Homo sapiens: one gene and its partner. The protein of the gene in region 1 interacts with the protein of each later gene in a pairwise test. Each region holds a gene or a part of one and is shown on either strand. Other genes may lie near its edges.

Region 1 (7,917 bases):
CCCCCATTCTCCGCAAGCCCACAATAGGGTGTTATTCCTTGATACCCTTCCCGACCTCCCTACTCTTCCTTCCCCATCAGGTGTCACCTCTTCTACTCATTGATTCCTGGGAGGCAGTGGGGTGGGTTTTTTTCTGGCCACACTGGGGAAGGATCCAGACAGGGACACAGGTGAGACTTTATTTATTGGAGAAGTATGAACTTTTTTTTTTCTTTTTGTTTTACCCCCAAGAGATCTCGCTGTGTTGCCCAGGCTGGTCTCGAACTCCTGGGCTCAAGCCATCATCCTACCTCAGCCTCCTGAGTAGCTGGGACTACAGGCACCCGCCACAACCACACCTGGCTTTTATGAACATTTTAACCCTGGTCCTTGTCCCCACAGACAAGCCTGGGGCACAGGCTGTGGGTCTTCTTCAAGAGGCTGTCTTTGGATTCGAGGAACCAGGCCTTGGTGAGCGGACCCAGGTCCCTCAGGTGGTCGTCATAGTAGGTCTGCATGAAGCCCCGGAAGGTGCTCGGGCTCCTACAGGAGAGAGGACATCACAGTGGAGGCCCCAGCTCTCCCCAGGTGTTCTCTGCCCCATTTATCCGCTCCTCTCTGTGACCTAGGAGTTCCTGCTCTCAGCTCTAACCCTCCACTCCTCCCAGACCTAGGGGTCACAGCCCCACTCCCACCCTTTCCTCCTCCCTGAGACTCAGGGGTCCAGGCCCCAGCCCCTCCTCCCTCAGACCCAGGAGTCCCCTCCCACCACCCAGCCCAGCACACCCTCACCAGAACCATTGCCACCCGTCTCTGGTCCTGTTCACCACTGTCTCCAGCAGCTCCTTCATCCTGCCCCTCACCAGGCTCCAGCGACTCATCTTTAGCTTTGGTGGGGGGCTCAGGGTTCCTTCCTGGGCCTCTGGCTGGCATGCTAGGTGGAACCAGAGGGCAACTTGGGTAGGCTGGGACCCTAGAATCCCCTTCTCCCTTTCCCTCCATGCTCATCCTGTGTCGCTCCCGGTGGCCCAGGGGCAGCCCCCTGCCAGTCCTCTTGCCTCCTGCCTTTACCCTTATGTGTCCCCTGACCGCTAACCCCTCTTTAACCATCAGCCATCTCTTTTTTTTTTTCTTTTTTCTTTTTTTTTATGAGACAGAGTCAGTCTCTTGCTCTGTTGCCCAGGGTGGAGTGCAGTGTCATGATCTCGTCTCATTGCAACCTCCACCTCCTGGATTCAGGCAATTTTCCTGCCTCAGCCTCCCGAGTAGCAGGGATTACAGGCATCTGCCATCATGCCCGGCTAATTTTTGTATTTTTAGAAGAGATGGGGTTTTGCCATGTTGGGGCCTCGAACTCCTGACCTCAAGTGATCCACCCACCTCGGGCTCCCAAAATGCTGGGATTACAGATGTGAGCCACCCCGTCCGGCTGGGCCATCTCTTCACCTTGTGTCAGTAGTCCCTCCTGTCACCCTGTCTGCCTGTGGTTCCCCTCTAATGGCCTCTCTAATTGCCATCCTCTGATGCCTCCCTTCACCACCTGATTTTGCTGCCCAGGAACTACCCCCTTCTCCCTTCGTTCTCCTGTGACCCCCACCCTGTCTGAGCTACCTCTGTGGACAGTGGAGGGAGAGCAGGAGGTGACTTTCTGCCCCCAGGGGCAGACATTGGCTTAGCCTTGCTGTCAGTTCCTCTTTCCGGGCCAGACCTTCTACCCACGCATCTGGACAAAGCCTCGCCTACAGAGACCAGCCGTCACGCGGGGGCCACATGTAGCTAGCTGTGTGCCTTGGCCGGTGACTTATCCTGTCTCCCCAGGACTGTTTCTCCTTTTGTAGAACGGGGTAATAATATCTACCTCAGGGTTATCGTGAGAATTAAGAGTTACTACATACGATGCACATGGAATGGTGCCTTGCACATTGTCTACATACGTGTTAAATTTTTTTTTTTTTTCAGACGGAGTCTCGCTCTGTCACCCAGGTTGGAATGCAGTGGCGCGATCTCGGCTCACTGCAACCTCTGCCTCCCGGGTTCAAGTGATTCTCCGGCCTCAGCCTCCCGAGTAGCTGGGACTACAGGCGCATGCCACCATGCATGGCTAATTTTTTGTATTTTTAGTAGAGATGGGTTTTTACCCATCTGTTAGCCAGGATGATCTCAAATCTCCTGACCTTGCGATCCACCCGCCTCGGCCTCCGAAAGTGCTGGGATTACAGGCATGAGCCACCGTGCCTGGCCCTGTATTAAAAATTTAAATTTCTACTGGATAATGCTGATCTAGAATATGATCCCATTTTAACATAAAGTACATGGCCGGGCGTGGTGGCTCATGCCTGTAATCCCAGCACTTTGGGAGGCCAAGGCGGGCGGATCACCTGAGGTCAGGATTTCAAGACCAGCCTGGGCAACATGGCAAAACCCTGTCTCTACCAAAAATATAAAAAAATTAGCCAGGCATTGGCCAGGCGCAGTGGCTCACGCCTATAATCCTAGCACTTTGGAAGGCCGAGGCAGGCGGATCACGAGGTCAGGATATGGAGACCATCCTGGCTAACACGGCGAAACCCCGTCTCTAGTAAAAATACAAAAAATTAGCCAGGCGTGGTGGTGGGCTCCTGTAGTCCCAGCTACTCGGGAGGCTGAGGCAGGAGAATGGCGTGAACCCGGGAGGCGGACGTTGCAGTGAGCCAAGATCACGCCACTGCACTCCAGCCTGGGTAACAGAGCGAGACTCCGTCTCAAAAAAAAAAAATTAGCCAGGCATGGTGGCGTGTGTCTGTAGTCCCAAATACTCTGAAGACTGAGGCAGGAGAATCCCTTGAAACGGGTAGGCGGATGATGCAGTGAGCCAAGATCGCACCACTGCTACCACTGCACTCCAGCCTGGGTGACAGAGTGAGACTCCGTCTCAAAAAAAAAAAAAAAAATGCATATGCAAAACACAGACGTACACACCAGCACACACTCACCCCCTCACACATGTCCACACACTCAAATATTTTGCACACACATACCCCACAGAGAGACAGGTGCACACAAATACACATATGCACACAGACATGCACTTTTTTACCACGACTGCATACTCCCACTTCCACGCACGCACGTGCACACACACAGATGATCCCAGTTTGTACCAATGTGACATTCACACTTCACTCTCAGCCACCGACACACACACTCCCCGACACGCACATGCATACGCACGCCATGAAACGCACACACTCCGTACTCATGTCTCACGTGGCTACAGAGCCACAGGACACACAGCCACACTCACACCCACCAGGTGTGGGCCCCACATCCCTCCACCCACTTCTTCTCACCCCCAATGCAGGCCAGGACCAGCACGCAGAGGCACAGGGCAGGCAGGGCCTGGAGCCTGTTTCTGAGGAGGGACATTTCTGGGGGTTCCGTGCCTCTGTCCCTCTGTGCTCAACTCTGCGGGCCGGGGGAGGGGAGGCTGCACAGAGCAGGGCCCTCCCCCGGCCACCTCCCCGCTTGGCAGAGACTTCAGAGAGCAGGGCCCAGGTGACAGTGGCAATCAGAGGTCATGCCTCTGTGGGCCTCCCTCCTTCTCACCCTCCCACACAGTGCCCTGAGAGAAGACAGAGGCTCTTGAGCCTCCTGCACTGAGGCAGGTTCAAATCCTGTCTCCACCTCCCATGACAGCCTCATTTGCTGGCCTCAGTTTCCTCCTCCATAAAGTGGGAGGCACAGTACATATTTCAGTATATTACTTGAACAAATACAAAGAAAGGCGCAGTGGCTCACGCCTGTAATCCCAGCACTTTGGGAGGCCGAGGTGGGCAGATCATATGAGGCCAGGAGTTTGAGACCAACCTGGCCAACATGGTGAAAAACCCTGTCCCTACTAAAAATACAAAAATTAGCCAGAAGTAGTGATGCGTGCCTGTAATCCCAGCTACTTGGGAGGCTGAGGCAGGAGAATGGCTTGAACCCGGGAAGTGAAGGCTGCAGTGAGCCGCGATCACACCACTGCACTCCAGCCTGGGTGACAGAGCAAGACTCTGTCTTGAAACAAAACAAAACAAAAAATGAAGAAAGCTCTTACCGTGGAGACTGGCAATATAGGTGCTCAAAGATCATTGCTGTTGGCCAGGCGCGGTGGCTCATGCCTGTAACCCCAACACTTTGGGAGGCCGAGGCAGGCGGATCACGAGGTCAGGAGATTGAGACCATCTTGGCTAACACGGTGAAACCCCATCTCTACTAAAAATATGAAAAATTAGCCAGGCGTGGTGGCAGGCGCCTGTAGTCCTAGCTACTCGGGAGGCTGAGGCAGGAGAATGGCGTGAACCTGGGAGGTGGAGCTTGCATTGAGCCGAGATCGCGCCACTGCAGTCCAGCCTGGGCGAAAGAGCAAGACTCCGTCTCAGAAAAAAAAAAAAGATCATTGCTGTTATTATTATCTTGTGTCTAATTTCTCCTAGTCACTGGGCTGCAGGGCCAGGCTTGTGGTAGGGCCTCAATAGGGCCCAAGGGTTGATGAGAGGAAATAGCAACACAGTCTCATGTCTCCAGCCTCTGTTTCTTCCTAGGTGGGCTCGAGCCCGATCACTTCCAAGCATTCCTTGAGTTCTCAATTCCAACTCTTTCTCCTCTGGGTGACTCTGGCTTCAGATGGACCTGGGCTTCGAATCCCTCACTTCTTCACCGTGTGACCTGGGCAAATACGTTTTCTTTTCTGGGGCTCAGTTTGTTCAACTGTAACACGGGGTTGATAGGGAGCACCTGCCTCCCAGTGTCCTCATGCAGGACGGCTGAGGCCTATGCAGGAGAGCTGCAGGTGCACATAGTAGGAGGTCATCAACATCAGGCCCAGGGCCAGGGCGGTGGCTCCCACCTGTAATCCCAGCACTTTGGGAGGCCGAGGCAGGCGGCTCACTTGAGGTCAGGAGTTCAAGACCAGCCTGGCCAACGTAGTGAAACCCCGTCTCTACTAAAAATACAAAAATTAGCCGGGTGTGGTGGAGCGAGACCTTGTCTCAAAAACAATAACAACAACAAAAACCAACAAAAAACCCACATCAGGCTCGGTCCCAGTGCCAGAAATAGAGCATTTTTCTCCTGAAGGACCCAGCTGCACCCCAGGGCACATGGCTCAGGGGACTATGGACTGGATTCTTTTTTTTTTTTTTGAGACAGAGTCTGGCTCTGTCGCCCAGGCTGGAGTGCTGTGGCGCGATCTCGGCTCACTGCAAGCTCCGCCTCCCAGGTTCACGCCATTCTCCTGCCTCAGCCTCCCGAGTAGCTGGGACTACAGGCACCCGCCACCACGCCCAGCTAATTTTTTGTATTTTTAGTAGAGACGGGGTTTCACCGTGTTAGCCAGGATGGTCTCGATCTCCTGACCTCGTGATCCGCCCGCCTCGGCCTCCCAAAGTGCTGGGATTACAGGCTTGAGCCACTGCGCCTGGCCTGGACTGGATTCTTTTGTCTACGCTTGCCAGACGAAATAGAGGAGGCCCAATTACATTTGAATTTCAAATCAACAGTGCATGACGTTTTAGTATAAATATGTCCCATGAAATATTTCAGAATTATACCAAAAAGTTTTTTTTGCTATTAATCTGAAATTCAAATGTAACTGAGCATCCTGTATTTTTACATGGCAAATCTGCAAACGCAACCTTGGCCACAACCTGAACAACTGTGCAGGACTGTCTTGACCCAGATGTCTGCCTTGGCAGAATCCTGTCCATCCCAGAGGCCCCAGCGTGAGCACAGTAGGTGCGCAACAGATGTCCCCTGGAATTCCTCTGTAGCAATCATCAGCAGATTGAAAACACCCAGAGTTTCTGTTTGGGATGACGAAGACATCCTGCAAATAGTGGGGATGGTTGCACAACAGTGTGAATGTACTTAATGCCACTGAACTGTACACCTAAAAATGGCTGCAATGGTTAAGTTTTTTTTTTTTTTTTTTTTTTTTTGAGGCAGAGTCTCACTCCGTCACCCAGGATAGAGTGCAATGGTGTGATCTTGGCTCACTGCAACCTCTGCCTCCCGGGTTCCAGCGATTCTCCTGCTTCAGCCTCCCGCGTAGCTGGGATTACAGGTGTGCGGCAACCACACCCGGCTAATTTTTTGTATGTATGTATGTATTTGAGACATAGTTTCGCTCTTGTTGCCCAGGCTGGAGTGCAATGGTGCGATCTTGACTCACTGCAACCTCCGCCTCCCGGGTTCAAGCGATTCTCCGGCCTCAGCCTCCTTAGTAGCTGGAATTATAAGCGCCTGCCACCATGCCCAGCTAATTTTTTGTATTTTTAGTAGAGACGGGGTTTCACAATGTTGGCCAGGTTGGTCTTGAACTCCTGACCTCAGGTGATCCACCTGCCTTGGCCTCTCAAAGTGCTGGGATTACAGGCGTGAGCCACCATGGCTGGCTCATTTTTTTGTATTTTTAAAGAGACAGGTTTTCACCATGTTGGCCAGGGTGGTCTCAAACTCCTGACCTCTCAGGTGATCCATCCACCTCAGCCTCCCAAAGTGCTGGGATTGCAGGCATGAGCCACTGCGCCTGGCTGCCCAGCTAATATTTTTATTTTTTGTAGAAACACAGTTTTGCCAAGTTGCCCAGACTGGTCTTGAACTCCTGGGTTCAAGTAATCCTCCCACCTCAACCTCCCAGAGTGTTGAGATTACAGGCGTGAGCCACCACACCCGGCCATGTTGTTTATATTTTACCACAATTATAAAAAAACAAAAACAGCCAGGTACTGTGGCAGGGGCTTGTAGCCCCAGCTACTCAGAAAGCTGTGGTAGAAGGATTCCTTGAGCCCAGGAGTTTGAGAGTCCAGCCTGGGCAACATAGTAAGACCCCGTCTCTTAAAAAAAAAAAAAAAAAGCTGGGCACGGTGGCTCACGCCTGTAATCCCATCACTTTGGGAGGCCAAGGCGGGCGGATCACGAGGTCAGGAGTTCGAGACCAGCCTGACCAACATGGTGAAACCCCCGTCTCTACTAAAAATACCAAAAAAAAAAAAAAAGTTAGCTGGGCATCGTGGTGGGCACCTGTAATCTCAGCTACTCAGGAGGCTGAGGCAGGAGAATTGCTTGAACCTGGAAGGTGGAGGTTGCAGTGAGCCGAGATCGCGCCACTGCACTCCAGCCTGGGCGACAGTGCGAGACTCAGTCTCAAAAAAAAAAAAAAAAACAGGCCGGGCGCGGTGGCTCACGCCTGTAATCCCAGCACTTTGGGAGGCCGAGGCGGGCGGATCACGAGGTCAGGAGATCGAGACCATCCCGGCTAAAACGGTGAAACCCCGTCTCTACTAAAAATACAAAAAAATTAGCCGGTCATAGTGGCGGGCGCCTGTAGTCCCAGCTACTTGGGAGGCTGAGGCAGGAGAATGGCGTGAACCCGGGAGGCGGAGCTTGCAGTGAGCCGAGATCCCGCCACTGCACTCCAGCCTGGGCGACAAAGCGAGACTCCGTCTCAAAAAAAAAAAAAAAAAACAACAAAAAACAAGGGCCAGCATGGTGGCTCGTGCCTGTAATCCCTGGTGGCAGGATCACCTGAGCCCAGGAGTTAAGACACTAATCTGGGCAACATAGGGAGACCTCATCTCTACTAAAAATAAAAAAAAAAAATTTAGCTAGGCGTGGTGGCATGCCCCTGTAGTCCCAGCTACTCAGGAGGCCGAGGTGGGAGGATTGTTTGAGTCTAGGAGTTCAGGGCTACAGTGAGCTATGATTGTACCATTGCATTACAGCCTGGGTGACGCTGTCTCCACAACAAACAAAAGCCCAAAATAAAAAACAAAAACAAACCTACTGTGTGTTGTGTTATGATTGGTGTGGGGTTCAGAGCCTGACTCTACCTGTTGCTTCTTTTCCTTTCTTTCCTTCCCTCCCTCCCTTCTTTGTTTTTTGAGATGGAGTCTTGCTCTATTGCCCATGTTGGAG
Region 2 (7,673 bases), on another chromosome or scaffold:
AAATTATACCTTTAAGAGGAAAAAAAAGAATATGTGTATGTGTAAATGTTAGTATGAGACTGCCTGAGCTCTGCTTCTTCCTATAATAAATGTGGATATTGGGTAGGTTCTCAAACTCTCTCACCATCAATTTTCTCAACTGTAAAGTGAGAGTAATAACAGCATCTACCTCTTAACATTGTTAGCTTTCCTTGTTGCTGTTCCATCGTTAATTATTATTTGATCTCCTACCCAACACTGTGCTCATTGTTAAGAAAACAGAGATGAATCTATGGCATGGTCCCTGACTTCCTGGAGGCTCCAATCTAGTGAATAAGCATCTCTGGAAAGGCCAGATGAACACAATTGTTTTACTGCCATTAGATTTTACAATTACAAAAATTAGCAAAATTAGTGGTATGCCAAATTCATATCAATTTCAAATATAGTTCAACCTTTTCAAGAATGTTCTAAAATAGGAATCGAAATTTCAACTCAAATCTAAGAAATTCTACTGCTGGCCCAGATATTTCTAGAATATTTCTATAGCCAATTTAAAAGACTCAAAATTGCAATTAGCTACAGCTTATCAGGTTCAGAAAGAATATCAGCCTACCTCATTTTCACCAATTTATTCTAGCATTTCAATGTTACCTTAATTTGAATAAAAGTATCAAGAGAGCATTATGAGAAGAATATGAAATTGTGTTTCTTTATATGCCAAGACTTCATATATCTGGATAAAACTTTTCCCTAAAAAGACAAAGCTAATAGGAATCATGGAAAATGAATGAAGGGACTATGAGGTATTCCAGAAAAGTCTGCTCTCTCCAGCAAGAGGGACATTGAATAACTTTGTCTTTAGATCACATAAATGACTCACCAATCTGTGTGACTTATATGTGCATTACAACTACACACCATGCACACATACCCAAATCCCTTCTGTGTATATCATTTACCTCTGTCCCTTAACCAGGTGGAATGTCCTTACTTCAAGGTTAGAGTATTAGAGGCATGAGAAATTCATGCTGGAACACACCTCAGCTACTTTTAGAGAGTTAATTACATTTTTATCATATTCAATATACATTTATTGAAGGCCCAATATGTGCTCAGTTCTCACAGCATAAATCTTTATAGGCAGTTTTTATTAAATGTGTCCTTACCATTCAGAGCTAAAAGAAAATCAAGCTATTCTTATTTCAGAGATTTCCTATCCACTGTCATCTCACATCACGTCTCAGTGAAACACTGTGAGAAGTGTTCTTGGAGTGTTATCAACTAAAAATTCTGCGATAAGTACGGCTTTTTGCACAGGATTTCACACTGAATAATATAGTAACATCTAGAAATTCCTAACCTAGAAGAAAAAAAGAACATTTTGCAAGATATTTTTAAAAGCATGACATGTGCACAAGGGGCTTCTCAAACAGAATCCACAGACTCGTTTTTCACCATTTCACTTGCTCAGAACTATTGTTTTGAAATATGGAACTCCCAAACGTGGATCCTCCAAAGCTTTATATATTGAAAATATTCCTAAGGATTATATCTCTCAATCAGAAGCCAGTATGTGGGAAGGTATAAGAGAGAGAAAAATAAAATCCACATGATAACTAAAAACAAGTCAAAATAAAATAAGTAGAAATGCTCTTTGGAGGAACGCAGAGAAAATGATGACTGGCTAGCTTACCTTGCTTTTTTCCATTAACAGTTTCTAAAGTACCAGGGAGCTGGCTGTCAAAGCCATGTTGAAGGCCACTTCTTTGCTTTTCAAGGTGATGCTCTTCCTCCGCAATAGAAGAAAGCACATGTGGTAACTTGCGGTCATCACTGGCCCAATTGGGCCACTGGGACATTGTGGAACATGAGTCCTTTGCATGTTGGCTAAGGCTTGGGCTTGAATTTTGGGCAGAGTCCTGCAAATCACTATTACAACATGAGAAATGATCCACTTCAAGAAACAAGGAATTTGCATCCTCTTGACTCCAATCATTGTCTTGTTCTTCATCTTCAAAGTACGTTTCCTGAATCTGAATATTATCTAAGTCCTGATCTAGTTTGTCACTCAATTTAGAGTCTTGTTTGCTTATGTTAACCAGCGAAGCAGATAACATATCTCCTGCTTGCTGGAGAGCTTCATAAACCCGAGATATCCAGGAAGAGAAAGGCTGGAAGAAGTTCTGAACATCCTGAGACGCCATGGCCAACACCATGGCCAGCTATCTGATGTCTACAGTGTCCAGTTGTTCAGTTCCTTCAGTGCTCTGGATTGAATGTGAACTATAGAATAAGCATGTTGAGAAATTAATTTGGAGGTCTCTTAATGGCTGTGAATATTTCACTCTCAAAACTTCCAGCTGAAACAGAGGAAAGAAATACTTACACCTGTTAAAGTTACAACCTCAGACCCATCACCAGATACCTACAGACGATGTCAAACAGCATTTGGGCACAAAAAGGGATCATCAGGAAAATCTTAAAATAGTTACATAAAAATGACTGTGAAAGTCTAGATGTAGATTATTTCAATGCCTATTCACCTCCATAGCCATGTGGAAAACTTCCATTAGCAGTAATGGGTTCTGTTCACGTGGACTGAGAGAAGTCTATCCCCATAGACCATCCTTAACAGTGTGAAAAGGATAAATGAATCTTCATTAAGATCCAATTGGGCATGACATTTCAAAACGCAAAAAAGGTCAGATGTTTCATCTACAAACCTGCAGATCCCAAAGAGCTGACTAATAAGCATCTCTGCTTTATGACACTAAAGTTTATACTTGCAAAGGAAGTATGTGTCTGGAATTAAAAAGCTTTAAACAAATCTTAAAATAGGATTTTATATTTTTATGCAATCTCTAGAAATCATATCTATTCTTGGGGAGCAATCGCTGAAAAACTGAGGGTGGCAAATGGATTATCTAGCTTACTGAAGACATGTCCCTGGAATCTCATTGCTTTTGTCTATGTTCCAACCTCCCGAAGATAGATAGCTCTCCACAATCTTTCAGACTCCTAAATCACACTTCATCCCACAAGATTTACAGCCTGAAGGAAGCAGCTCCAGGATATCAACAGAACCACAGGACACTATGAAGACCCCAGAGCTAAATATTTATACTTTTACATGTATATGTGCATACAATGTATACATACACATATGTGTGTATATTATGTGTGTATATATCTTATTGCTATTACAGTGTTCATCAACAGCTCAAGATGAACGTTACAAATGACTAGAGGGCCTAACACACTGCTTAAACTTAATTACCCAATATCTTGTATAGCAATAACTTCCTTTTAACTAAATCTACTAGCTATCCCTTAGTCTCTTGACCTCAGCCACTGCATGTGATATGACTACTTACATTCTAAAAATTTTTTATTAGCCATTCATGGATGCATTGACTTATTCAATAAACAAATATTGATTATCTATTAAATGCTGGCACAATGCCAGGGATAAGGTAATCCTGAGGGCTTTGCCTCCATACAGCCCACATTTCAGTTACAGGGGAACTGAGTTCTCCACATTTCCCCCCTATGCTGAATAATTCATGTGTCGCTCTTTCAGGCTCCTCCTTGTCTTCCCACCACCTACATGTATACAACCAAAACTTGTCCTATGGCTTCCCTTCCCTGTTATATTCACCAGCTGCAAGAGTAGGCCCATCCCTACATTTCAATTAACACCTTTTTGAAACTCCAAAATATACATCTCCAGCCTTTGCTCAATTTTTCTTTCCAGGCTTGTATCTGTGGCTGTCAAAGCCAATGATTCTCAAACTCTGGTGTGTCAGAAACACCTAGTGAGCTAATAAAGAACACAAAGGCCCAGGCTGGTTGAAGGAAAAGGGCCTAGTCTGAACCTTGGGATTTTTGGCAAGTACTCCAGGTGAGTCTGACACCCACGGAAGTTTGAGAAATACTGATAGACTTGGATGTCTCACTAAAATCTCAAATTCAGCTCATCCAAACCTAGTGTATCACTTTGCTACAAGCGTTCATCACTCTAGACTCACAACATGGGGGATTGTGAATTTCTCTCTTCAACACTACCTTCTTCCATTCCAAACTCCGTTAGCTTTTGGTCTCCAAAGATTCTCTTTCATCATATTTTGTACAGTTATCTCATTCCCCACACCCTAGTTCCCTCACATACTACATACCTAGTTCGCTTCATATGCTCTTCTTACCCAGACTCAATTCATTCTGTTTGCTCACCATAACCTGATTTTATATGAGGTTTACACCTGTCTCCTGCTCTAGAATGGAGGCTCCCTGGATGGCAGGGATTGTCTGTTTAGTTCTCTATTTTATCCCCATTGCCTAGAAGTGTGCTGAGCACATAGTGAATTCTCAATAACAAATCCTATTAAAAATCATGCAAAAAACAACACCTAGCATATATTATGTACTCAGTAAATTGGTTAAGTTGATGGATAAATTCTATCCAGAACTGTTAAAAAGATGTTAAACAATGTTATCACATAAGTTCCCTGCATAGTAACAACAGTAAAGATCCTTTTGCCATTTGTTACATCCCATTTCGCCACTCAAAGTTTTTCGGGTTTTTTTTTTCTCTGCAAATATTTTGTGTAAGTTACTAAGCTTCAGTGCGTCACAGATTTACAAGGTTCTCTCTGAGATTCCAGTGGCTTTAGCTCCCACGGCCATCTTTTTGGTACCTTAAACTTTTTAAGCCAGAAATGACATGTTTTCCTTAATAATTCTTCCATCATTCTATTACACACAAAAAAACTTTGAGTTTTTTGTTGTTGTTGTTCTGAATTTTTTAATTTTTTTTATTTCAGTTCTGGGATACATGTGCAGACGTGCAGGTTTGTTACATAGGTATACATGTGCCATGGTGATTTGCTGCACCCATCAATCTGGATCTAGGTTTTAAGCCCCACATGCATTAGGTATTTGTCCTAATGCTCTCCCTCCCCTTGCCCCCCACACCCCCACAGGCCCCGGTGTGTGATGTTCCCCTTCCTGTGTCCATGTGTTCTCACTGTTCAACTCCCACTTTTGAGTGAGCATATGTGATGTTTGGTAGAAAACTTTGTTTTCATATGCAACCCAAAATCTCTGAATTTGAGCCAGCATCTTCTTGTCCAAATCTTCAAATTAGTACAGCTCATATTCTTGGCCTCATATCCCCTTGGTTTCTATAATCTCTGTTCATCAAAACGAAAATGAAAAAATTCATTTTTTACAAAAATTGACAGTTCATCAAAATGGCAAATTTTGTAAAAAATGAATTTTGATCATTCTCCTAGTTTTAAAGAAAAAAAGCCATTATGATTCCCTGTTACTTAAACTGCAAAGTTTGAGCACTGGTGCTGTCAAAATCACTACTCATTTATGTTTGTTGATATAGCGTTTTTTAAAAATTAATTTGAATGTTTCCAACTCTATATAATCTTCACCTCTCCCTGTTGTTTACAATCCACTCGCTTCACTCATTTCTATGTAGCCTGCCCGACCCCTGGATGCATTTGAATTTCCAAGCCCCACCCTATAGGATAAAGTTCAAATTCTGTACTGTGGCATACAAGAGGAGAAGTGCTCAAAAAAACAATAATAATAATTATCAGCACCATCCAACTGGGCTTAGTGCTGGGGGGATCCTAAAGGCTTCCTGCAAAGTGTAAACACTTTAATTGCTGTATCACTGGGTCTGAGGAGGTCTAGAGGTACAAAAGGACACTGGAAGGGGCTTCAGATCGGTGGCTATTTATCAACCAGCTTGGAACTAATTTCAGGACAACAGCAACTCACGGAGCTCCCGCCTTTTGTCCTCACTGAATACCTAGCTGTCTGAGCTGTCCGCAATAATGCTGCCGCGCCATGAGAACTCAGCCTTTCCTTACCACTCCTCGCTGTAAAGTCCTATGTGCCAGTCTCACTGACACACTAAGCATTTTCCAAAGTGACTGTGCTCTTTCCTGACTTCTGTTTGTTTTGCCCAGGATGACTTCTCTCCCTAAACTGCCCGATACTCATTTTTTATGAGGAAATGTTTATTGCTTCCTCTGTCAACTCTTCATCTACAATCAAAGGTGTGGCCTCAGAGTGTTTTGAATGTGCCTTTATGATATAACGTTTCCCTCGGTATAATGGATATTTGTCAGTCTTCCTCTTCCAATGGACTGGGAGTCCACAAGTGCTAGGGCTGTGCTTATACTTTGTAGCTCCAGAATCCACACAGGGCAGGGGCTCTCCATGTTCCATGAATGAATGAATGAATGAATGAATGAATGAATGAATGAACGAACAAAGTTATTAGTGAAAACATTTAAAGCTAAGTAAACCTGATTCCTTTCTATTTATTCATCTCTAAAGTGGCATTAACGCACTAGATGACTTTTAACACCCTTTCTGCTCTTAAATCCAAGAATTTGCCATTGTGTGCCACAGAACATTGTAATATTGAGGACGGATACAACCAGAAGCAAGATGCCTTTTCATGGAATAGTTCTGTACTTTTTTGTCAATAACCATTGTGAGATGATCCCAGAATAATTGGAAAGAAGCCAAATCTCAGTCTTTATATAAAAGAGTGTCCAGTTGCTATATTCTAAAATACTCAAAAAGAAATGAAACCTACAGCTAGAATCTGAAAAACTACCTAGTTAGCAACGCCAGAGATCTTTCATTTTATGCTAAATCAGCCTAAAGCCAAAGAGGCCCAGCACTGGCAGGGTAACCATGGAGATATCTTTGGGGCTTAGGTAAATTTCAACTTGATTGGTAGAGCACACCAAGGATAATAATGCCAGATATATACTGTATCCTACTTCTTTGGTGGCTTTCTTACAGCTAACAAGAAGACAAAGTAGCTTCTGGTGTTTTAGAAAACACACACACACACACACACACACACACACACAAATGAAAAACAGAAAAAAAGTCCAGTTCCCTGGATTAGAAGGAAAAATACATTTAAGGTCTTGTCATATCTGAGAAGGCCCATTATTACAATTGAAATGGTTCATGATATCTCATCACTATGGAAGTATAAAATGAGACAACAAAAAAAGATGGTGTGTGTGTATGTGTGTGTGTGTGTTTACCATACAAGCTTCTATCACAAACATGACCTGGGAAGATTTACAAAGTATTGAAGTACTCAGAATAAACTGACAATCTAAGAAAGAATTAGTAGCAATTGATAAAGATTTTAAAAAGCCATAAATAAATATATTCTTAAAGGCTACTTTTTTAAAATCTTGGTTTAATTGGAATTCTATTTTAATTAAGATCATTTTGTACATAGGAAATGACTAAGCAGTAAATATTAAAGAGTTGTGTTTCTGTAGAAAGAAAAACTGTCAAATTCCTGAGCCATATGTTTTATCAAATATTTTGATTGTTCTCACCAAAGCTAACTGTGAACAGAGAAGAGGTATTCCATCCCAGAATAACAATGCTCATAGTCCTTTAAGGGTTGTTAGTTAAATCTTTCCAACCCCATTTTCTATCTGATGGGGTTGCTTGCAGGGTTGGGGGACAGTTACGACCTAAGAAGAAATACCAGATTCTAGAAGCTGTGCTTTAAAAATCTGTTATTTTGGTGAAAGCTAAAGCAGAAGCCTGTATGCCTGTGTGATTTTCAAAGGATTATCAACTAACTCCTGGAGAAAGTCAGACACATTCTGAAAGACAAGAACATGTTT

Evidence for each region. The genes of interacting proteins can lie anywhere in the genome.
Region 2: the proteins of APOC4 (region 1) and SYT16 interact in binary tests that used the Homo sapiens proteins (3 or more experiments, as listed by UniProt).

Annotation. Positions count from the first base shown.
Region 1 is NC_000019.10:44,937,745-44,945,661, reverse strand, and holds APOC4 (apolipoprotein C-IV precursor), read right to left. Parts: upstream 3,426-7,917; 5' UTR 3,385-3,425; coding exon 3,309-3,384; intron 914-3,308; coding exon 772-913; intron 523-771; coding exon 357-522; 3' UTR 166-356; downstream 1-165. UniProt on the Homo sapiens protein: May participate in lipoprotein metabolism.
Region 2 is NC_000014.9:61,990,545-61,998,217, reverse strand, and holds part of SYT16 (synaptotagmin-16), read right to left. Parts: intron 2,343-7,673; 5' UTR 2,199-2,342; coding exon 1,676-2,198; intron 1-1,675. UniProt on the Homo sapiens protein: May be involved in the trafficking and exocytosis of secretory vesicles in non-neuronal tissues. Is Ca(2+)-independent.